7 linked regions of the Homo sapiens genome follow. The protein of the gene in region 1 interacts with the protein of each later gene in a biochemical or structural test. Each region holds a gene or a part of one and is shown in the gene's direction. Other genes may lie near its edges.

Region 1 (3,500 bases):
CCGCATGGAGCCCAGATTGCTGATGCCAAACCTTCACCAGAGGCTGGGCGATGTTGAAGGAGCTGCTCCAGGTACAGCTTGTCATTGTATTTGCCAGGCTGGTTGTCATCATTATTTTTACAGTTATCTATTTTCACTTAAAAGTTACTACTGCCAGTTTCCTGTTCCTGCAAAACAAGCAATAAACACCTGCCGTGGCCAACTGCAGCAGTTCTTGGGGATGTGATAACGCAGCAGTGAGAGGGAGGGAACGCTTGCAGTTGCTTTGTTTGTTGCAGCAAACACACTTTGTCTGGCTCAACCTAACACATTAAGTCAGGCCCCAGGGTGGACAGTGAGAGCTGTGCTGCAATACCAAAAAACAGCATACACCTCTTCCCCCAACATTTACTAGTCCTCACAATATTTCTGCTGTTTTCCTTAGTCCCCTGAAGCTACGCAGGGAGCACAAAAAAGAAATGAGCTTTTCTTCGTCTTTTCTCATAAAAACGCATCCAGTTTTTATTGTTACTTTTCATAGTAGGTAGGTGGCTCTTTGCAACCTGGGTTGGAGAACAGAATCAGGAATCACTGTTTCAATGGGAAGGGATTTTTCCTTGCTCACTACATGGCTTTATATTCCATTAGTCCATGAACTCCTGAAAAAAGAAAAGAAAAGCAACAAAACAAAGGAAAACCACTAGCCAGCTAGAGGCTGTTTGACCTATCTGAAAATCCCTGGTGGTATGGAACTCCTTTTTGTTGTTTATTTCTAGTTAAGTGCTATGAACACAAGCACTCGTAAAAGCATCCAGACACATGCACACAAGACCCTACCCTTAATCCATTCATTCTCCTCTTCGCTTATTCTTTCCTTTACTCTTTGCTAATATGTTAAGGCCAGAATCCAATCAGAATCCCTGCCTCTTCTCAGTCTAGCAGACCCAGGTACAGAGACAGTGGGGACCACCCTCCATTCTCTGCCTTTGCCCCACAACCTTTGTCTTCTTCTATTACCCAGCACAACTCCTCCAACCTTCCCACCAAGACACTCCTAAAAGCAGAGTAAAGATCTCGGAGCCTGAGACCATGGCCTGGAGAAGACCCTGCACCCCTGACATATGTTTGAAATCTCATGTTTTATTTTATGAATGATGCAAGTATCATGTTTTAATCCCAAGTATAACCATGTTTGTTTGAACATGAATATGAATAAAAGTGAAGCTTCAGGAAGAAGTGTCATGTGGAGCCTTGGGCCTTTCTATGCCTGACTCCGCTGGAAACCTTGTCCGCTGGGGGTTGCAGCCTCCAGCCCAAGCAGTTTACAGGGTAACCTCCTCATTACACTGCCCACATTCCTCTCCTTCTGGCCCCAGCCTGTCTTCCCCATTTGTTCCACTACCCAAACCCTAGTGATTCCCAAAGGAAAAAGAAACATGTATGTATGCTTGTGCACGCATGTATGTATTTATGTGCATGCGTGTGTGCATGTGTGTGTGTATGTATTCTGGGAAGTTTGTCTTTGTACAGTTAAGAAATCTATTTCACCTTATTTCATCTAATAAAGTGAAATAGGTTTCTTAACTGTACAAAGAATTCGTAGGCAAGTATAAATTATAAATTTTCAAAATTGGGAAATTAGTATATTGTATATCTGAAACTTATCTCCCAATAGACCAAGACACTTTGAGTCCTCCTCCACCCCATTAGGTATGGTCTACTTTTATATTTTAGTGCCTTCCCTTCTGACACTTCCTCAAACTGGACTGTTCCACACAACAGTTCTCTGCGTCTTTCAAGGCACAGTTCAAATATCTCCTTTGTGAAACTTTTCCTTATACTTCTTGGTAGGCAAGTATCTTAGTCTATTCCAGCTGCTATGACAAAACATCCTAGACTGAATAATTTATAAACAATAGAAATGTATTGCCTACATTCTGGAGGTTGGGAAGTCCAAGATGAAGGCACCATCAGAATAAGTGTCTGGTGAGGGAGGGATGATCTGTGCCTCAACAATGGTGCGTTCTTGCTGTCTTCACATGGTGGAAGGGGTGAACAAGCTCCCTCAGTCCCCTTTTATAAGGCTACTAATCCCATTCATAAGGGCTCCACCCTCATGACTTAAGCACCTGCTAAAAACCCCACCTCTTTACACTATTGCATTGGGGATTTGATTTCAACATATGAATTTTGAGGGGGGCACATTAAGACCATAGCGGCAAATATAATTGCTTCCTTAGCTCTGGTATTAATTGATTAATTAATTAATTTTGAGACAGAATCTCTCTCTGCTACCCAGGCTGGAGTGCAGTGATGCAGTCTCAGCTCACTACAACCTCCACCTCCTGGGTTCAAACGATTCTCCTGCCTCAGCCTCCAAGTAGCTTGGAATTACAGGCATGCACCACTGCACCCTGCTAACTTTGGTATTTTTAGTAGAGAGACAGGGTTTCCCCACGTTGGCCAGGCTGGTCTCGAACTCCTGACCTTAGGTGATCTACTTGCCTTGGCTTCCCAAAGTGCTGGGATTACAGGCGCGAGCGCCCGGCCTCTTTATTAATTTAGGTAGTTTGACATGTAAGGGTGTCTCTTCCCAGTTTTGAGTTCAGGGACACCAATTACAAGTCTGCATTATGTTTGCATCTCCAACAACTATAACAATACCCAGCACACAGCGGGTCTGCAGGAAATATCCAAATGCTCTTAGAGTTCAGGCAGGAATTTGAAACTATCAGTTTGCCATGTTCTGTATGTCTGGGCTAGGCTGCTTTATTCTTCACCTCAACGTTTTTGAGTGTTAAAAACATTGGAGCAAAGGGGTACCTCCTCCACCCCCATAAAGAACCTGGAGCCCTGGCCAGAGAAACTTCTGCCAACACTGTTTTGGTCAATGCCATCATGTCATCCTCATCATCATTGTGGTAAACCCTCTGTGCATGTTGCCTGTGTACCTGTGTGCCAGGCACCTGCTTCACGCTTCCACCTCAATGAGTTCATGTCAACCCCTCAGCAATCCTATGCTGGCCTCATTTTGCAAATGAAGAAACTAATGCTCTGGGAGGACTTCCCCAAAGCCAGAAATTAGTGGACGACTGAACCCAGAAAAGAATCTGACTCTAAAACCTGCACTTGCTTGCTTGCTGCTCCATGTGAAGCTCTTTCTCATGCTCTGGGCTGTCAGGTTAGCCAGTCACAAATGGGAAATTAGATGGTGGAGGGCATTGAAGGGCAGTGATCTCGTCTCTTCTCATAGCAGATGTTCAAGTCATTATCACCAGAGAAAGAAACTTTGAGTGTTAATATTAGGGCAAGAAAGATCTAGGGCTTTGAAAAGTCTTGATTTGTGGGATTTCACTCCTTTTTCTAGCTAGAAGCAGTTTTTGGCAGAGGTGAAATAAATATGGTGGTCACAGTGCTTTCTGTGTTCCCTGAATGGTGGCTGTTAAGAAGGTACAAGCCCAGACAGGCCAGGGACTCACTCTCTAAAAAGATATAAGCCCTTGCGTGGTCAGGGGCTTGTA
Region 2 (3,500 bases), on another chromosome or scaffold:
GACAAGTAAGTCGTAGATTTGGGTTTAGAAACCAGGAACTGTGTCTTTAGATGTTTGCTCTCAGCCATTAACTGCATAGCCTAGTACTATGTATGTTGTTATGAATTGGAATTTATCCATATTGTTTGTTTTTTAATGCTTGATTTAAAAAGACATTTCCATCTACTAACTGCTATATCACATCAACCTAAAAATAGCAATTTTGCTTCTGGAATAGTGATGGGATATCCACAAGTTTCTCTTAATTATATATTTTATGAGGTCTACATGTAGAAAATCTAGTTTCTGAGGCAAATATTGTAGGATTTGCAAATCAACTATGAAAAATATTCCTCAGTCTAACTACAAATGGGAAAATGGGCAAGATCTTAGACATCCAGGTGGCGAGTGCTATAAAGAACCAAATTTGGTGGGAACATGAATGTAAAGTAAGTCCATTATTTTCTGAGGCACTGAGTAATGTAGATGGGAGAAAGACAGGTTTCAAGATTGAGGATGAAGTTGAGGTTTCTAAAGTTTGGAAAGTAAGTGAAGTCCAAGAATGCCATTCTATATTTCGTGGACAGCGTCTGAGAAGTAACCACTACCTGTTGAGAACAAAGAAAACCTATTTGTGGAATGTTGGGAACCCCCTGAATCAACATCAGATAAGGCCAGAGGTTGATGCGATCCTGAAGATACAGGGGGAGCTTTTGGGAAGGCTTTAATTATGCTCTGAAGTCTGGGCCTTTGAGGTTCCTGCCACCATTTGATGAACTCCATTGGAAACGTGGTGGACTGAGAGGTGAGAACTGTGGGATTGCTTATCTCCGAATCCTGACACTTTATCAGTGTCCCAGCCTCCAAATCCAATTTAGTGAAGTTGTTAGTGGAGAAGTGATTGTCTTCTTATGTGCTTATGGTGGGGATCGTTGAGTAATTAGTTAAATTTATCATCAAAATTATGTGTCACAGGTGAATGGGTAATTGAGCTGTATCCTGCAGGGACTCTCAACCCTGGCTGAACTTCAGTAACCTCTAATTTTCACATTAAACATTTTAAACATTACAAATACCTGTGTCCCTTCCCCCAAGATTCTCATTCATTGGGTTAGGAGTGGGTCCTGGGCATAGGTATTTTAAAAAGCACTCCAGGTGATTCTAATGCCCAGCCAAGGTTGAGAATCACTAATCTACTCTAATCTTTTCGTATGGCTGAACTCATTGGATTTTAAACTCTTTTGATGGCAGATACTGTGTCTTAGATATCTACACACCAATCTGTTATTAAGCAACAGAATAAGCACAATACATGTTATTTGTTAATGGGATTATTATTATGAAGTGCAGGGCTTAAAACCTTGCTGTCTAGGGATTCAAACCTTTTAAGTGTCTTTCACTGATTTACAGAAAGTGAATTTATTACACATTGTTTTTCAAAATGAATTTTGACATTTCTGGCCTTTTCTCATTAAAAAAAAACAAACAAATAAAAGCATGGAATTTGTTAGAGTATTTATTGACCTTTTAGTGCCATTAGGAATACTCCTACTCCTACCCTTAAAGAATTCTTCCTATAGAAGGTGCTCAAATAATTGCTTAAAGTGAACATTCATTTTATATAGACAGTTGTCCCTTAGTATCCATAGGGGATTGATTCCAGGACTTCCCTCGGATACCAAAATCTGCAGATGCTCAAGTTCCTGATATAAAATGCTGCAGTGTTTGCATGTAATCTACACACATCCTCCTGTATACTTTAAGTCATCTCTAGATTATTTATAATACCTAATACAATGTAAAAGCTATTTAAACAGTTGTTATACTATACTGTTTAGGGAATAGTGACAAGAAAATTGTGTGTGTGTGTTCAGTACACGTAGTTTTTTTTCTAAATATTTTTGATCTGGGGTTTGGTTGAATCCGCAGATGCGGAATGCATGGATGCGGAGGGCTGACTGTGTGTGTGTGTGTGTGTGTGTGTGTGTGTGTGTGTATTCACTGAGGATGAAGTGAATAAGGGAAAGGCTTGTCTAGTAATGAGGATGTATAGTGTGTTCTGGGGTTGGAATGAATGAGAAATAAGAGCATTGAATTCGTGGAATAGCAGGCATGCTGGAATTTACAAAGGCCAATTTGTGGCTCTGACTGCGTATGTGAGTACACCCTTTTTTGGAAAGGAAAAATTATATTTGATAGGGTTTTCAAGATGAATCTTTTCTGTATTCAGATATTTTGAATAATATGTTTGTTTTACAAGTTGAGGCAGCTTCCCAGAACTGGGAGTAGTCTGATTAGACTAACAATTCCATTCCCTGATTAACTGTGGGATCGGAATCTAAGAGAATTTGTGTAGTTAGAAGAATCTGGTATGATAATGTGTGGGAGTAGCCTGGAGGAATAGGCTAGAACTCTTGAATTTCTAAACTTTTCAGGCTTTGATGCCTTGTTACCTAAATAGATTTTAAGGTTCTTGTATACATAAGCTAGGCCCAGACTGGATTCCTCAAATGCTTTTCAATTGATTGGGCACTGACTTACTTGAGTGCTTTATTTCCTATTCAGACCTCACTTCTTTACAGCATGTGGACAGAACTGACTCGCCATCAGCATTACACATGCTTCCAACTTGGTTTTGGTTCTGCTACTCAGCTTGCATTGAGCAGCTTCTAAGTTTGCAAACAGAGGGCTCGTGGGGCCTGCTGTGACCCACAGACATATTTTTGTAGGTCTGCTCAGTGTTATATTTTGACTTAGTTGTCAGCATTTAAATATTTTGAGATTTCATGCAAAACTCCAGATTCCTATCTTCTTTGGGGGAAAAGCAAATTGGAAGCTCTGACAATGCTGGGCTTTACTTTCCCACATAGCAACCATCAGTTGGAGCTGAGACACCTCTGCTCTCTTTAGAAAGAATTATTAATGCTTCAGTCTCCATTATTGCTTCCCTAACAGTGAGGATAAGTTATTGTCATCATGCTTGACTGTTTTTACTCTGTGCTTATTTTCTCACTTATGGCCTTAATTCATGGTTGCTATTTGGCCTGCTGGTGGGCATTTGAGTTTGTGCTCCTGGATCTTCTCTCCCCTCCCTCCTCTTTCTCTTTCTCTCCCTCTCACACACACATCCCCACACACCCTCTGTGTATAATCCATGCACATAGGGTTTGCTGAACCGGGTTTGGCTGGTTATCTGAGCTGAGTTAATTGCCCTGTGCGCGATTGGGAGCCACAGCCCTGATTTGTAGCTTGAGGCCCTGTGCTTAATCAAGTGGCTTAGTTAACCAGGAATTCATTCCCAGGGTATTCTGTGCTACAGATTCCCTTTGAAGAAGTTGGGCAAATGGTAATGTTGTCAGATTTTTGTGAGACTATTTTATGAGTGGACTGTTAAAGACATCTGAGGAGTGTGTTAAACATTCAGAGCTTTGGGCCTCTCTTGGAAAATCTAAAGCAGTGTAGTGCAGTAGAACTTTCTGGGATGAAGAGATGTTCTAGATCTGCATCTTTCAAGAGGGCAG
Region 3 (3,500 bases), on another chromosome or scaffold:
CTCCTGGGCTCAAGTGATCCTCCCACCTTAGCCTCTCGAGTTGCTAGCTAATTTTTAGTGTTTCATAGAGACAGGGTCTTGTTGTGTTGCCTAACCTGGTCTCCAATTCCTGGGCTCAAGCAATCCTCCCACTTCAGCCTCCCAAAGCACTGGGATGACAGGCATGAGCCACTGTGCCCAGCCTGTCTTTACTTTTTCTTATAAATATTTTCAACCTCAAAAAAATTAGAGAAAATAGTATAGTAACCCCCACATACTCATTATCCACATTAACTAGTTATCAGGACTTTGCCATGTTTGCTTCACCTATCATGCCAAACATCGATCACATCATTTTATTCCTAATATTTCTCTATGCATTTCTTAAAAACTGGACATTTTCTAACATAACTACAGAACTGCTAATACACCTAACAAAAGTAACAATAATGCCTTTGTATTATCCATTACCCTGTCCATAATCATATGCCCTCAATTGTCTCAAAACATGTTTTACAGTTGGCTTGTTTGACGGACGTTCCAAAAAAGTTCCACACGTGACATTTGGTTGTTATGTCTCTAAAGGCCCTTTCAACAGCCCTCTCTCTTTGACTTGTCACAGAAATCAGGTTGTTTGCTCTGCACAATTCCCACATTCTGGTTTGTCCTCTTATTGCCAGTTAGCTTGTTCACCTATCCCCTATATTTTCTATAAATGGAAGTTAGCTCTGGGCTTGATTAGATTCAAGCTCATTTTTCTTTTTTTCTCGCTTTGGCATAATGATTAAAACAAGATCATTCTGGAGGCAGGAAGACCAGTTAGCCGGTTGTTACCATAGCTGGTTGGGGACAGAAAGAAGATGGGTGAATGTATTTGGAGGTAGAGGAAACCTGATTTACCTACCAATTGAATGCGTGGGGTGAGGAAGAAGGAAGAGTCAAAGATGATTCTAAGGCTTTGAGCCTGCATAACCAGGAGGGTACCAATGTCATCCTATGAGAAGGATGAGTTTTTAATGAGAGCAGCAGGTATCATGGTTAGATTAAAGGAGGAACTTTCTCACTTTCTCACAGTAAGAGGCCATCTGCTCTGTTTTTTTTTTCCAGATAATACTATCTTTCCCAGAAAAAAATTTGATTCGTGGTATAGCTAAACATTTGATAATGTTTGGAAAACATTTGGAAAGGGACTCCGTATTTTTTGTTAACTGCAAATAGTTAAATTTCCAGCTCCAGGGCCTTGAGAGGGAGGATAGTATATACAATTCTGGATAGAGAGAAGGTAATGCTGATATCTCCCTTGCAGATGAGCCTACTGTCCCATATCATCATGGGTTTCTGAGTCATCAGGCTTGGGTAGGAGAGTGTAGGATGCCAGAACCTGGGATTTCTCTAGACACAGCCAATGAGCATAGCTCAAGATCCATGTCTTTCCTTGATATTGGCTGAAGTCTCTATCCCACACCCACTCTTCCACCCAATATGGAGGCTGTGTGGACCCTCAGTGGACCATGGCAACAGTGTTCTTGCCAAAGTCAAAAATTGCCTAAAAGCCCTGGGATATTCACTGGACTCTGACAAAGCCCCAAGATTATTTCGACACCTCAGTAGGAACTTGCTTAACTCGTTGAATTGGATTAGGTGAGAACTACTCTCAGCTCCATCCCATCATACCCTCCTTCATAAAGGCTTTTCTCTCTCTTCCTTCCCCTAGCTCATCTTTCTTCTTGCTTTTTCTTCTGCTCCCCCCTCCCTGCTCTTTCTCTTCCAGCGTACATTTATTCTCTCAAGTTAATCAAACACTGGCCCCTACAGCCCATTGTGCCTCAGATTGATCACTTAAGTAGCGTTATTGATTGCCCAGAAAACCTTAGGAGGTGGGAGTGTTCTGAAAGCTAGGATCTGACAGCTGATTGGCTGCCTATGTCTCACTCGGCAGCCTCAGCTCCTCTGCCGTCTGGAACATCTTTTGAGAAAGGTGAGGGAATGAACAGCGGAGATCCTTAGCGGGCTTCACTTATCTCATCCTTCCTTCATACTGGAGTTAAGGCATGGGAAGAGAAGTCTATTGACCACTCCAGGATCTAGCCCTGTACTAATGTTATGGTGAGAAGGGGAAAGCAAAGGCCCTGCTCTCTGGAAATCCGTAATTTAACAGAAAAATAATACTCATTCATATGAAGTAACTAAGAATAATACAAGATGGAAAACAATTATGTGCCACATTTTTTTGCTCTAAACAGTAAGCACTGTAGGGGTTCAAAGCACAGAGAGAATGAGAGTGTGGGCTGGAATGAGGGGAGAAGTCTTCCCAGAAGAAGTTGAACCTGCGTTATGTTTTGAGTAACATGTGAGATTGAGATTGTTGACTAGAAAAGGAACAGGCTTCTGAGGGGGAGGCACAGCATAGGGAAAAGGCTGGAGATGGAAATGGTCAGGGTGTTATCAAGAAAGGGTCAGAAAGAAGTCTGACTAGAGGAGAGGGTGTATATGCAGGCACAGTGGGGAAAAAATGATTGGCTGGGTATGGGACTCCCAGATTTGAAGAGTCTCTGATGTCAGAAGAAGTTTGGACTTGGGTAAACCTTGGGGGCTGTCGGACAATTATGCATAGTGATTCAGGATGGTTAGCTATGCAGTTGGAAGCAGAATTGATTGGAATAGGGAGAGACTTGAGACCAGCCTATAAGATACTACAGCAATCTAAGTGAGAGGTGATAAGGGTGGTGGCAGTGGGCATAGAGAGGAGGGTCAAATCCAAAAGGCTCTCAAGGCATCGGTGTGGCTGATAAACCACCAAGTAGATTTTCTTGACTTGTTTTTGTCTCACTCGCTCCTTCCTCTTAGCCTCAATACTTACACTTTCTTTGCCTCATGCCCTCAGGACCTTAAGGTGGCAGAGTTTCTGGAGCTAAGATAACATTGGGCATTATAATCAGTTATCCTTTCCAAGTAAAGTAGATGCGCACAGGGGCCTTCAGTACCATGACCTGAAAGAGTGAGCAATGAGGAATCTGGCTGCAGAATGCAGTTGAGATGATAGCCAAGCTGGGGTGCTGAGTATTACATCCCCCAACAGGGAGGCCGGAGGCAGGCGATGCCTGTGTCTGGTCTGTTTCAAGTCCCCCAAGGCTTCTGAGAGCTGGTAAGAGTGAGGAAACATCTTTCAACTTCCCTGGTAGAATCAGTTTGAAAACTCTTCTGAGCACTTGGGAATCATCTCAGTGAAGGTCACACCTGTGCCAGAGTATGGCAAGAGCTACCACAGCACTTTGATGCCAGCTGGAGCCCTGTTGCAGCTGGTATAAGGAAACTAAGTGAGGAGTCCACAGGTTGATGGGAGAGTCATGGCCAGGGCCTCTGCCTGCTAAATTGCCTCCCCCACCAACTTTCCCCTCCCCACCCAATCCACTGAATATCAGCCCTGGATAGGTGTCTGGGCCAGGTCTGCCAGCCCTGGATTGGAGGGAAATAGAGAACTGCAGATAAAGGGATATTTGTGAGATTTTAGTCTCCTTTTA
Region 4 (3,500 bases), on another chromosome or scaffold:
AGGGCTAGAATGAGGGAGGGAACAGTCCTGTGCTCTCTGCTACTCAGAGCTTAGATCCTGGGCTCTTCTCAGTGACTCTCAGCAGATCCAGAGGAGGCAGCTGGGAAGTTAGAGAGGGCCTGGAGTTTCTCCTTTGAAGAGTCAGGGTCTCCCAGCTATGAGCAGGGAGCTGGGTGCTGGGCATTTCCAAGAGCAGAGGAAGTGGGTGGTCTGGGGGTCCAGAGGGCACAGTTGGGGCCAGGGGCAGGGTGGGGGGTGGCCACAGAGGGGCAGCTTTCAGCTCAGGGCAGGAAAGCACGTCCAGCAGCCCAAACCTTGGGCCTTGAGTGAAAGTCCCATCTTTGCTCCCAGCAGCTGGACAAGTGCTTTTCCCTCTCTGAGTCCCAGTCATCTCATCTGTAAAAAGGAGGGAGGACTTCTAATGCACAGACATGGGGGAGGCTGACGGAGATAAAGGACAAGGCACAGCCCAGGCCTATAAATCCTAGCCCTAAGGGCAGAGCTGGAGGGTGAGGAAGGAGTCTGTCCACCCCACCCTTTGCAAACCCCATCTTCTGGAAGAGAACGGAATCCCCCACATCTGATTGGGAGGACAGTTCTTGGGGAGAGTCCATCTCTATGGTCTCTGCCAGCTTCTGAAAAAGCCACACTGAATGAACCACAGTCCAGGGACTGGTCTGGGTGACATTAGGGCTTGAAACAGCGTCATTCATTCTCGTACCATTTATCGAGCATCTGCCACGTGCCAGGTTCGGTGCCGCGGCCTGCACGCCTCATTACTTCCTCATGACACCTCTCTGAGCTTAGTCTTACTGTCCTCCCACTTTACAGGGAAAGCTGAGGTAGCGTTGCAAGGCTACACATCTGCGTACAACCCCTTGGCTCTCATTAACTGAGCTTCTACTAAGTGCCAGGCACTGCTCTAAGCATGTTATATTATTAACTCATTCTAACCCTCCCCATTACCCGAGGAGGTGGCCACTCTCTTGGTCCCATTTTACAGATAATAGCACTGAGGCACAGATAGGCGAAGTGACTCCTCCAGGTCCCGCAGTTGGTCAGGGACAGAGCTGGGATTTGACCCAGGCAACTGGCTCCAGAGTGGGCCAAGCCCTGGGGAGGGGGGCTGTGGAGATGTGGCTCAAGGAGACAGAATCAACGGGCTGAGACAGTTGAGTCCTCACCTGTCCATCCGCGCAAGAGGAGAGCTGGCCTGGGGCGGTCTGGGAAGAGGTGTTGTATGGTGGCCAGTTTGGAGGATCAGATGGAGGAAGCAGGGTCTCCTAGGGGGTCGGGGCAGTGGGGGTTCCCTGGGAACTTGGAACAGGAGTGCAAAGAATTCACTGTGGATAAGGCTGGGAAGGGTTGCAGCCTGGGAAGGGGGAGCAGCCTCAGCCCGTGGTGCACTTCAGCCTTGGCCAACCCAGCAGGAAGCCCTGGAGCAAAGGCTGTCCTGGAGAGTCGTGGGGCAGAAATAGCCAGGCCCTAGTGCCCCGGTGCTCAGCCACTGGCCGAGGCTGCCTGGGCTGCAGAGCCACTGCATATCCCCAAAGTGCTGCAGCTGGACACCGTCTGCCAGCTGCACTCCTCACCAATTCTTTCTTGGAGAAACTTCATGGCAGCACTCATAGCCATAGACCTCTCCGGCTCCAGGGCAGGATGCCTGTGTTCAAATCCCTGCTCCACAACCTCCCAGCAGTGGGCCTCGGCCTGGCTTCCTTTCTCTCTCCTGTCCCTGCCTCTCAGGCTGCCATGTGGCAGCAGCTGCACTCTGAACACAGTGCCCGGCACATTGTAGGCGTCCGGGACATGTGAGCAGAATACTAAATGCCTTGCCTGGCTCAGGGGAAGCACGAGGATCTTCTGGTTCTTGCTTTCCTGGCTTCATAGTGCCCTCAGCCACTAACGCCTGCACCTCTCTTTCCTCTTTCTCCGCTGGCTACAGTGAAAGTGCAGAGGAGTGAGCAGCTGCACCGCTGGGACCCCTGCGTGCCCTCCTGCCACAGCCCCCGGCCCGGCCACTGCAGGATGCCCACCTGGGCCACACCTGCTGGCCAGGACCAAAGCCGATGTAATGTGCCTGCCCTGCTGTAGCTCAGCCAGTCTTGTAGCCTTTCCTAGGGAGGGGGCGATGCCTGTTGTCTAAGGGAAGGAAACTCAGACTCAGAGATTAGTGAGCTGGGTGTGGTGGTGCACGCCTGTGGTCCCAGCCACTCGGGAGGCTGAGGCGGGAGGATCGCTTCAGCCTGGGAGGTTGAGGCTGCAGTGAGTCAAGATCACACCGCCGCACTTCAGCCTGGGTGACAGAGCGAGACCTCAACTAAAAAAAAAAAAAAAAAAAAAAAAAAGAGAGAGAGATTAGGTGGCCTGCCTCATTGTCATCTAGCATGCCAGTGGCAAGATTGGCCCCGTCCCTAATAGCTGAGTTTCACAGGGTCTATGGAAACCCTGCAGTCTTTGAGACCCAGAGAGGAAAGGGACTTGCCTGAGGTCACACAATGAGTAACTGATGTGAAGGGGGAAGGCATCCCCATCTCTCCCTGTGGTTGGGTGGCTTCCCAGCACCCACTGTGTGGTGGGGTGGAGAGCCTCGGCTGGGGTTCACGGGGCTGTGCTCTCATCTCCCCAGCCTTGTCTTCAACTCCCTTTTCCTCGCCGACCTTGAACCACGCCTTTTCCTGCAACAACCCCAGCACCCTTCCCCGTGGATCCCAGCCCATGAGTCCTCGAACTACAATGGGGCGGAGGAGGCAGCGAAGAAGGGAACACAAGAGCTCGTGTAAGCTGTGGTCTCTTCCCTCCTCCTTGGGCTGCTTGTATGTCTGAGAGTGAGGCTTGCCAAAGGGTGTATGTCAGGGCGAGGGGAGGTATTTTGGGCAGAGCTCCAGGTGTATGCGTGGGAATGTTAAATAACATGAGTGGAACACCAGGCTGTCATGGATGGTTGGGCAGGTTGTGCACTGCTCAAGAGGACCACTGAGAGGTGCCAGTTACTTTGTACACTTTTATTCTTGTATTTTTATTATGAAAAATTCCTAGGATTTGGTGATAACGTCCTTGAGGAAAGGAAGTCTTTTCAGATGTGCATGAAGTTTTCACATTTTTTGCCATTCAGTCCTGATTCATTCATGGATAAAGCCTCAGTGCTGCGTTACTATATCCTTACCACCTCTCTGCCATTTGTTAATTTCCCCTAAGACAAAGACATGGCCTGAGACTCTAGCTGTCCAGAATGTAATAATTTCCAGTCTTACTTCTCTGCTTATTTATTGTTCAAAATTGCCCTTTTGAAATAAAGATATTTACATGTTAAGAAAAGTAAATCAATAGAAGACAAAAGTAGTGAATGATAAGGCAGGAGCCCTGTGGAAGTGGCAAAACACAATAATGCCTAAAATTTTGAAACCCTTCTTGGGAACAGTCTTTCCTTTGTTGATGCAGAAAGGGTTCTCAGCCTCCTGCCACATGAGCTGCAGAGGCCTCCAGGAAGGATAGAAGAT
Region 5 (3,500 bases), on another chromosome or scaffold:
TATGGATAGTGCTGCAGTGAACACATGCATGCATGTGTCTTTAATGTTTTTTTAATGCTTTGTCTAGTGCATGACACACAGTGGTCAGTAAGTGTTCATTAAATGACTGAGCAAACTGATAGATATCATAATAATATAATGGAATGTTTTTATATTTATTTATTTATGACATAGGGTCTTACTTTGTCACCGAGGCTGGAGTGCAGTGGCACGATCTTGGCTCACTGCAGCCTTGACCTCCTGAGTACAAGTGATCCTCTTGTCTCAGCCCCTCAAGTAGCTGGGACTACAGGTGTGTGTCACCACACCTGATTAATGTTTTTATTAGCCATATTTTTCATAGAGACGGGGTTTCACCATGTTGCCCAGGCTGGTCTCCAACTCCTGAGCTCAAGTTATTCACCCACCTCGGCCTCCTAAAGTGCTGGGATTACAGGCGTGAGCCACCACACCCAATGTACTTATTTATTTTTGAGACAGGGTCTTGCTCTGTCCCCCAGTCTGGAGTACAGTGGCACTATGACAGTTCACTGCAGCCTCGACCTCTTGGGCTCAGGTGGTCCTCCTGCCTCAGCTTCCTGAGTAGCTGGGACTACAGACATGCACCACCACACTTGACTAATTTTTTTTTTTTTTAATTATTTGTAGAGACGAGATCTCACTATGTTGCCCAGTCATGCCTTGGACTCCTGGGCTCAAGTGATCCTCCACCTCAGCCTCCCACAGTGCTGCGATTCCAGGCATGAGCCACTGTGCCTGCCATAATGGGATGTTTTAAATAAAGAGAAGCAGTAACATGATCTGTTTCAGCTTTCAAAAAGTGGTAAACATGGTTCTTCACTAAATACAATTTGAGAAAGAGAGAATGAGGATGGACACATTGTATTATGATGGATAGGAAACTGGCTAAGATATCAGAAACAAGGAGAAGGAGTAGATGGAACACCTCTTGGAGAGAGTCAGGTAAATGGAACAGTTCTCTAAAGATTGCTTCAAGGATCAGTATTAAGATCTTTTCAAAACAATACTAAAGAAAAACTGTACAGTAAAATATCTAGGAATTACTTTGGGGAAATAGAAAGGCAAGCTGATAGATGTTCAACTGCAGAAACATTTTGCGAAGCCATGTGACTAGCCAGAAAAGTGGTCAATGATTACATGTGATAAGTACACAATTATTTATTGAGGGAAAAATAGCCAAACTATACTTAGATGATAGGGTCAGAACTGCTGGTTTCAGAAGACTGAAAAGTAAAGTAAAACTATTTTTTAAAATTTATTTAGCATTTATTATGTGCCTACACTATGATTAGGAATCATGGACACTAGAATAAAGAATAAGAAATGATCCCCATTTTTAAGAATTTTGCAGTTCAAGCCAGGCATTGTGGCTCTTGCCTGTAATCCGAGCACTTTGGGAGATCAAGGAGGAGGACTGCTTGAGGCCAGAAGTTCAAGACCAGCCTGGGCAACATAGCAAGACTCCCATCTCTGCCAACAAAACAAAGCAAAACAAAACAAAACATTAGCTGTGTTTGGTGGTGCATGCTTGTAGTCCTAGCTACTTGGGAGGCTGAAGTGGAAGAATTGCTTGAGCCCAGGAGTTCGAGGTTGTTGTAGTCCTAGCTACTTGGGAGGCTGAGGCAGGAGAATTGCTTGAACCTAGGAGGTGAAGGTTGCAGTGACCTGAGATCGTACCACTGCATTCCAGCCTGGGCGATACAGCGAGACTCAGTCTCAAAAAAGAAAAAGTGCCAGAATGCTTGAGTTCAAATCCTTACTCTATCACTCACTCACTGTGTGACCTTGTGCAAGTCACCTCACTTCTATCTGCCCCAGTTTCCTCAGCTATAATATGAGAGTATTATTAGAATCTACTTATAGAGTTGTGAGGATTCAATGATTTTTTTTTTTTTTGAGACGGAGTTTTGTTCTTGTTGCCCAGGCTGGAGTGCAGTGGCGCAGTCTCAGCACACTGCAACCTCTGCCTCCCGGGTTCAAGCGATTCTCCCGCCTCAGCCTCCCAAGTAGCTGGGATTACAGGCGCCCGCTACCACACCTGGCTAATTTTTCTGTATTTTTAGTAGAGATGGGGTTTCACCATGTTGGCCAGGCTGGTTTCTAACTCCTGATCTCAGGTGATCCACCCATCTCGGCCTCCCAAAGTGTTGGGATTACAGGTATAAGCCACCACGCCTGTCCGATTTTTGTTTTATAAATAATTTGTAGTGACGATTCTGTACTGTCTTAAGCACTTTACCACAAAACAACTCATTTAATTCATTGAAGTGCTTTAAGGATACTGCTATGTGGGGAGTAGACTTTATGGGGCAAGAATTGAGTCATCTAGGAAGGGTAGGGTAAGCTGTGTCAGTAATTTCAGGGATATGGGGCTTCTGTTTCTCTTTTTCCCTCCTTTTATGCCTTAGTTTATAAAAAAACCCTATTACTGCAATAGTCCTTCCCCCTCCTCCAAAAAAAAAAAAAACCTGTTAGAAGCTCCCAGAAACATTTTTAACCTTGTGAGATTTCCCTAGAACTGGAAATGTTAGAAATTCCTGACCTAGGTGTAATTTTCAATTCCAATAATAGTCAATTGACACCAGTTGGGCTTTGTGTATGTACTAGGTACTATATTGGCACAGGAGGTACAAAAATGAATATAAGCTAATTACATTGTCTTCTAGGAACGAATATTGCAATAGGGTAATGAGACAATTAAACAAGTAATTTCATGTTTTCAGGCAAAGGGAAGAAGACATCCAAAGTCACGGAGATAAGCAGTAGCTGTGGGCGGGGATGATAGGGTGAAAAGCGATAGCAAATATTAAATTTTGTTTACTGTATAATGCAAAGTAGAGAATGTCCAAAGATGGCTAGAAAGGTAGATTATGGTGATTTTGAGTTTAAACTTCATCTTCTATGTTTTTTTTTTTACTTTGATTTTATCTTGGGGATATACTTAGAATTTATTTAAAAATCATTTTATCATATTTGCATAGGAAATAGTAGAAAAAGTCTACTGTAAGGAGGATACTATAACAAATTTTTTTTTTGCTTAATTAACACAAAATTGGTGCTTTGAGAAACTTTAGCCTTTTATTATTGACTAAGTTGGTGCAGAAGTAATTGTGGTTTTTGCCATTTTTTTTTTTTTTTTTGAGACGGAGTCTCGCTCTGTTGCCCAGGCTGGAGTGCAGTGGCACAATCTCGGCTCACTGCAAGCTCCGCCTCCCAGGAGATCACGCCATTCTCCTGCCTCAGCCTCCCAAGTAGCTGGGACTACAGGCGCCTGCCACTATGCCTGGCTAATTTTTTGTATTTTTAGTAGAGACATGGTTTCACCATGTTAGTCAGGATGGTTGTGATCTTCTGACTTCATGATCCACCTGCCTCGGCCTCCCAAAGTGCTAGGAGTACAGGTGTGAGCCACCGCACCTGGCCGGTTTTTGCCATTTTTTATAGCAAAAACTGCAATTACTTTTGCACCAACCTAATAA
Region 6 (3,500 bases), on another chromosome or scaffold:
ATGTTGGACCCTACTCAGGGCAGCCAAAGGCCAGGCCAGCTGAGCCCTGACAAGCAGACACAGCTGCAGGGGAGAGGCACTGGGCAGGGGATCCAGCTCAGCCACTTCCCTCTGGTCAGAGGCTTGGCTACTGACCAGACCCCAGGAGGCTGAGCTCTCCCTTGGGAGCAAGCATCCCCCCGGCCCATACCTGAGGATGAGGGAGAGCCAGGCAGGTCTAGGTGAGGGGAAGTGAGGAGACCTGGTGGGGAGGGCTGGTGCCCGCTGACCCATGCCTGTGGGAGAAAGATGTCTCTGAGGCAGCTCCAGAGGGAGGACAGTCAGATAGCCCTGCAGAGGGCCCCTCTGATCTGGCCCCAGCCTCTCTTGGATATCATTCTGTTGCCCTTGCTCATGCTGTCATCATGATCTTCTGGACACAACTCCCATCTTTCCTGTCAGCATCTCCTCTGTGACCGAGGCCACAGCCTTTCTGCGTGGGGTCTGCAATGACCCAGCCCTGCAGGGGGACGACCCCTTCTCTGTAGATGGGCATTTGGGGGTGCCCTGCCGTGAGAGAGCCTTGCTGTGGGGGTGTCCTGCTGTGGGGGAGCCCCATGGGCAGTTCACTAGGACAGAACAGACATTGCAAAATTCGCCCTGGAAAGAAGTATGCTGGTACCTGCAACTTTCTTTGAAATGCCCGGCAAATGAGATGGATTGATGGATGTGGAGGGATGGAGTGTGATAAAGCAAAGCGAGTGAAATGTTATGGTACAGCCATGGTGGCGGGTGTTCAGGTATACACTTTAGAATGTTTTCTACTTTTCCTGCCTAGAAATCTGCAAAAATGTCTATAATAAAATGTTGGGGATCACATAGAGGAGTAGGGAAAGTTGATTTTCTGCAGGACAGGCCTGGCTGGGCAGCTCAACTTGCCCCCAGGAGTCCCCTCTCAGTCTAGAAAACTCTTTTGCTTTCCTTCACTGATGTTGGTTTTTACACTTTGTTCACCTCTACACTCAAGGCAGCAATACACTCCTGTCATTAATAGAGGCTATGGCAATGAGTCTGGGGGTAAGGGCTATGTGTATTTTAAGAAATCTCAAGTAGCTCTAAGATGCCCCTGCGGGGCCTGGAGGGCAAGCTGGACTTTGCAAAGCAGATGCTGTGGCTTCCTGGCAGTCCAGACGTCTGTTTCTATATTGTCCTTTCCTGTCTCTGCAGATTCCAGGGCAGGGGAAGGGGCGCTGTGGGCACAAGGTGGCCAGTATTTTAAGAGGGCACCACAGGCTGGGTGTGGTGGCTCATGTCTGTAATCCCAGCACTTTGGGAGGCTGAGGCAGGCCAATCACTTGAGGTCAGGAGTTGAAGACCAGCCTGGCCAACATGGTAAAACCCCCTTTCTACTAAAAATACAAAAATTAGCCGGGCATGGTGGCATGCGCTTGTGGTCTCAGCTACTGTGGGGAGACTGAGGCAGAAGAATCGCTTGAACCCAGGAGGCGGAGGTTGCAGTGAGCCGAGATGATGCCATTGCACTCCAGCCTGGGCATCAGAGCAAGACCCTGTCTCAAAAAAAAAAAAAAAGAGAAAGAAAAAAAAAAAAGAGGGCACCACAGCCCCTAGGGCTGAAATGGCAGGTTCACAGCAATTGGAGAGGGCTGTCCTGGTCTTGCCGTCATCACCCACGTGGTGTAGGGCAGTGTTTCCGTGACCCGTAATGTGGTCGTGCAGAAACAACTCAGTTCCTGGGCTGCATCTGCAGAGCCCATCTGGGAATGGGCTGGACACTGGTGACTGGTGACTGCAGGGCATCCTGGTTTGGAAGGGGCTTCCCTGTGAGGGGACTGGCAGGAGCTTCCACCCATGTCTGTAAGCCCAGAGCCTGGCCAGAGGCCCACCCAGGCTTGGCACCTGGGGCAAGGGACTGTCCCCAGAGCCTCTCTGGGCTCCTTCTAGGATGGTTCTCGGGCCTTGGCCTGAATCTAGCTTCTGCCAACACTAGGAGCTGGCTTGGTCCTTGGGTTATAGCCAGGAAGGTGACTGGGATGTGCCCAGAGAAGCCCAGAGGACTGGCTGGTGGGCATGTTTGGGAGGCAAAGCCAAGGAACACTTCCAGCCACAGCTTGTAGGGGGTGGGGTCCGGAGCCTCCTCTTTCCTGTGATGTCCCTGAAGGCCAGGCCTGCATGGCACTCCTCATGATGTCATGGGGGTTGGGGACCTCCAACATGGTATGGTGGGAGTCAGGTCATAAAGCCATTCTATGTGATATTAGCAGGGGCCAGCCCATTCCATGTGATGTCACAGAGGGTACAGCCAGAGTCTCTGGCATTCCATGAGGTATCTTTAGGGGTGGGGCTGCTAATGTCACTAGGGGCCAGCCATCAAGCCTTTTTAGGTGACATTATTAGAACCTCTGAAATTTTGCATCTCATGTGATATTACTGTGGGCAGGGCCACCAAAGCATTCAGTGTGCTATTACTGGAGGCCGGGGGTGCAGAATTTGGCATCGTGCATGATGTCCCCAAGAGTGCAGTCTGAGCCACGATGACATCCCAAGTAATGTCCCAGGAGGTGTGGCCTTCCTGAGATTCCATGGGGAATTCCCGGGATGGAGTTGCAGTGGCATTCTGTGTGGTTACACTGAAGATGGGGCCTCCAGACTGTAACATTCTGTGGTATTATCGGGGCTCAGGGTTTGGGAACTGGCCCCCGCACCTGCACCCTGCCTTCTGGAGGTATGACATCAACTACAGAACCCTAAGCCCTGCCCCATTTCCCAGCTGAGTTTGCTCATCCAGGCAGGGTTGTCGGCTACCTCACTCTCTCCACATCTGCCAGGTAGCACAAAGCACCTGGCACTAAGATGCTTTTGAGTGGGTGCATTTATCCTGCCCTTCAGCCTGGCAGTGTCTCTGGGATGCTGCTGTGTCTTAGCTGCTGCATCTCCCTTTTCTCCTGGAGTCTGAAAAGTGCTCCATAGCTTTGCAGGGTGCAGGGGTTATAAGAGGCTAATCAAGGTTACAAATAGCCTGCAGTTTTTTGTTTGTTTGTTTGTTTTTAGACAGAGTCTCGCTCTCACCCAGGCTGGAGTGCAGTGGCATAATCTTAGCTCACTACAACCTCCACCTCCTGGGTTCAATCAAGAGTTCAAGCGATTCTCCTGCTTCAGCCTCCCGAGTAGCTGAGACTACAGGCACATGCCACCATGTCCAGCTAATTTTTTTTGTAATTTTGGTACAGACGGGGTTTCACCATGTTGGCCAGGCTGACCTCAGGTGATCTGCCTGCCTCAGCCTCCCAAAGTGCTGGGATTACAGGCATGAGCCACCACACCTGGCCACCCTTTTTTTTTTTTTTTTTAAGACCGAGTCTCCCTCTGTCACCCAGGCTGGAGTGCAGTGGTGCAATCTCAGCTCACGGCAACCTCTGCCTCCTGGGTTCAAGCAATTCTCCTGCCTCAGCCTCCCAAGTAGCTGGGACTACAGGCGCCCACCACCAGGCATGGCTAATTTT
Region 7 (3,500 bases), on another chromosome or scaffold:
ACCAGCATTTATACATGTTATGTGGCTGCTGCACTTCACAGATAGAAAACTTGAAATCTATTACCTAAGTAATAACGGCTTGAACCATCTTAGTGGGTTTCTCAGATAAGAAGACTTCAAGTATTCACTGGACTGTATTCATTTTCATGTGAACATTATAGATGAGATTTTAGCCCTTATTATTGATTTAGTATTGTTCCTATCTGCATAAAGTGCCTTTTTTCTCTTCTTGCATAAAGTTATTCTAGCCTCAGGGTAATGAGGACATTTCTCTCCAGGAGGTAGAATATGATGTGGCAAATGTATCTGCATATCCAGAAATGCTTTATAAAGCAGCTGCTTGCTCTGAGCACTCATTGTGGTGGAAGCCAAGTTAAATGAGGTGTGCTATAATGTAATAGCATTTTTATTTGTTAACAAACAAGAAATTTACATACCTCATGCAAGCCTTTCTCTCTTGGCATTTAACCCGCATTTAATTTATATATATATATATATATATGTTTTAATTATATATTTTATATGTGTGTGTGTATATATATATATATATATATATATATATATATATATATACATATAGTTTTTATTTTTTTTGAGATGGCATTTCACTCTTATTGCCCAGGCTGGAATGCCATGGCACGGTCTCAGCTCACTGCAACCTCCACCTCCTGGGTTCAAGTGATTCTCCTGCCTCAGCCTCTCAAGTAGCTGGGATTACAGGTGCCCACCACCATGCCTGGTGAACTTTTTGGATTTTTAGCAGAGACAGGGTCTCACCATTTTGGTCAGGCTGGTCTCGAACTCCTGATCTCAGGTGATCCACCCGCCTCGGCCTCCTAGAGTGCTAGGATTACAGCCATGAGCCACTGCACCCAACCAACCATATGTTTAAGTTAACCATTTTTGTGTCTGCCCTCCACTAGACTGAGTACCTTGCAGACAGGATATGTACAAGTACTTGGAAAAATTCACATTATTCTCAATCTTCCACACCGAATGTTGGGCAGGGTGAGACAATGAGGTGTCTATTTTTTCCAACCAACAATTCTGTTAGTGCTCCAGACTTGGGTTTGCATGCTCCTAGCACTAAACTATTGGGCAAGTTAGTTAGTGTGAGTCTTCTGTAAAATGCAGCTGATAATACCTACCTCAGAGATTTGGGAATTTCTTCTGACAATTGTGTTCAGAGATGGTTTTTAAACTTCATGAGAACAGACTCAGTCACATAACATACGGCTGCATGTCATCTTTGTGTGTTACATCAGGTATTTAACTGAGAGAACATATGTAAAATGTCCAGTCCAGTAGCAGACACTTTGTAAGGGGCTAGTTAGTATTAGTTATTGTAAACACTCAATGATGACCCTATATATCGATTTTTATTTACTCTTTGCAGTGATCTTTTTCTGACTTTAGAAATCCAGCATCCCCTACCTTCCTCTAAAACCTACATACATTAGTTTCCTTTTGTTGGATTATGGCCATGCTTCCTATATTAACTTCATATTTTTCTTCTCTTTCTACCAGGGCAAACACTGTATACTTGATGTATCAGGAAATGCTATCAAGCGGTTACAAGTTGCCCAGCTCTATCCCATTGCCATCTTCATAAAACCCAGGTCTCTGGAACCTCTTATGTGAGTAGAGGGCATTGGAGGCCTTCATCCAACTGACTCCCTGTTCTGTATTATACTGAAAATTACTAACAGGATTTTGCTGGGAATGCTTACAAATGGGAAATGCCATTGTTGATTTTTCAGCATTCTCTTTTTTTGAAGATATATCAAAGTTCTTTTAAACAACTAGAAACATAATGTCAGTGATTTCTTTTTTTAACATCCCTCATTTTAACAATAATAGTAATTCCTTAAAACATCTTCAATAATGTTTCCTGATTTTTATTGTTTTACTTCACGGATTGTTTTCTTTGTTAGTTTTTGAGGTTTTGTTGTTGTTGTTTTGAGGATAGCTTGGCTTGATTTGGTTTTTTGGTTTGCTTTTGTTTTCCAAATGATAGGAAGCAATCATTTTTTAATTGTCTCATACTTCTGAGGCAGGTCTATAAGTAAATCTTTTTAAATGTGTAGATTTTTTATAGAGAGAGCAGACAACGTTTGAGACTTTTTTCATTGGCATTTTCCTTGGTTCTCTAATAGAATTCTGATGTTCCTTAATTAAAACTTTACATACATAGAACATCGTTCTTAATAGAGTTTTCTTAGTGGCGTGGCAGTAAAACATCTGTAACTTAAACCAGTAGCTTCATACCTGTGCACTCAGGGTTTTTTCTTTTTTTTTCCCCTCCAAAGGACTTGTGAAATAACTTCTTTCAAGAATCATTAAACAAAGTGGGCAGACATTCACGATCTGACTGTAAAGTCAGTATAGGCAACTCCCATTCACAAAGGTGAAGCTACAGTAGATAGAGGTAACCAGAAAAGGGGCTACCAGCAGGGACCTGAAAATTGATCAGGCAAGATTTGGTTCTTTACTTTGCCACTGATCAGTTAAGTAACCTTGGGCAAATTGCTTGACCTTTCTAAGATTTAGCTCCTCACCTCGAAACGAGGCATACTAATAAATACCTCATAGAGCTAGTATAAAGGTTAAATAACAAGATTAGGAATTTAGTAAAGCTGTTCATGTACTCTTTGGCATATGGTAAGTACTCAATAAATAATACCTATTATTATTGTAAAAGATATAAAATTACTTCATTATAAAGGAATAAAACTATTTTATCATTATAAAACACATAAACAGTACCTCTTCCATGACAGTGCAAGAGATAATGCCAATGTGTCTGTCATGAGGGCCTTGATCAAATTTTGCCTTCATCTGGGCCTCAAGACCATAGTGTTTGACAGGGTTCAGGAGTGAACCACAGAGTACTGGAAAATAATGTTTATGGAAGGACCGAAGAAACAGAAATTATTTAATCCCAGTGGTGAAAGCAATTGCTTACAGAGGATATTAACTGTTCTGTGTCTCCTCTGAAGACAAAGAAGCAAAGCAAACTGCAGCAGCTGGAGTGGCAGCCTGAGAGAATTAAGTTAAATACATAGTTGAGCTCTGGGGAAATAGCCAGAGATGTACCTTGAAAGCAGAATATAGTCCCATATATAAAAAATGGACAAGGATTCTTACCAGGATAAAAAAAGTAAGATCGGGAGGTCACTGACAGTACCTTCAGCCCCATGAATTTAGGTATTAAATTATAATATAAAGAGTTTTTCCCATGGCTGGCACATGGAAAAATATGTACTAATGATAAAATAATGATTCTTAATATTATCATCCCCAATAGCATGTATTAAATTTCTCCTTGTATAGGATACTATGTCGGGCATTGCACAAAGTGAATTAAGCAAGTACAAATTTCATGATGTAAAATTGATTTATAATCTGTCAAGAGCCTCATAAATATAAGTAATGCTAACATTAATGAGAAGAAAAATAGTCCTTACTTCCTGGGAACAGCCATCTTAAAGGCCTGTTTC

Evidence for each region.
Region 2: the proteins of REELD1 (region 1) and PARD3B interact in a test that uses a peptide from one of them, tested with the Homo sapiens proteins (one large-scale study listed by IntAct).
Region 3: the proteins of REELD1 (region 1) and FRMPD3 interact in a test that uses a peptide from one of them, tested with the Homo sapiens proteins (one large-scale study listed by IntAct).
Region 4: the proteins of REELD1 (region 1) and GRIP2 interact in a test that uses a peptide from one of them, tested with the Homo sapiens proteins (one large-scale study listed by IntAct).
Region 5: the proteins of REELD1 (region 1) and SYNJ2BP interact in a test that uses a peptide from one of them, tested with the Homo sapiens proteins (one large-scale study listed by IntAct).
Region 6: the proteins of REELD1 (region 1) and LDB3 interact in a test that uses a peptide from one of them, tested with the Homo sapiens proteins (one large-scale study listed by IntAct).
Region 7: the proteins of REELD1 (region 1) and DLG2 interact in a test that uses a peptide from one of them, tested with the Homo sapiens proteins (one large-scale study listed by IntAct).

What each region holds. Positions count from the first base shown.
Region 1 is NC_000004.12:146,224,538-146,228,037, forward strand, and holds part of REELD1 (reelin domain-containing protein 1 precursor), read left to right. Parts: coding exon 1-71; intron 72-3,500.
Region 2 is NC_000002.12:204,548,475-204,551,974, forward strand, and holds part of PARD3B (partitioning defective 3 homolog B), read left to right. Parts: intron 1-3,500. UniProt on the Homo sapiens protein: Putative adapter protein involved in asymmetrical cell division and cell polarization processes. May play a role in the formation of epithelial tight junctions.
Region 3 is NC_000023.11:107,456,152-107,459,651, forward strand, and holds part of FRMPD3 (FERM and PDZ domain-containing protein 3), read left to right. Parts: intron 1-3,500.
Region 4 is NC_000003.12:14,516,343-14,519,842, reverse strand, and holds part of GRIP2 (glutamate receptor-interacting protein 2), read left to right. Parts: intron 1-1,945; coding exon 1,946-2,071; intron 2,072-2,629; coding exon 2,630-2,779; intron 2,780-3,500.
Region 5 is NC_000014.9:70,407,091-70,410,590, reverse strand, and holds part of SYNJ2BP (synaptojanin-2-binding protein), read left to right. Parts: intron 1-3,500. UniProt on the Homo sapiens protein: Regulates endocytosis of activin type 2 receptor kinases through the Ral/RALBP1-dependent pathway and may be involved in suppression of activin-induced signal transduction.
Region 6 is NC_000010.11:86,675,011-86,678,510, forward strand, and holds part of LDB3 (LIM domain-binding protein 3), read left to right. Parts: intron 1-3,500. UniProt on the Homo sapiens protein: May function as an adapter in striated muscle to couple protein kinase C-mediated signaling via its LIM domains to the cytoskeleton.
Region 7 is NC_000011.10:83,464,845-83,468,344, reverse strand, and holds part of DLG2 (disks large homolog 2), read left to right. Parts: intron 1-1,527; coding exon 1,528-1,637; intron 1,638-3,500. UniProt on the Homo sapiens protein: Required for perception of chronic pain through NMDA receptor signaling. Regulates surface expression of NMDA receptors in dorsal horn neurons of the spinal cord.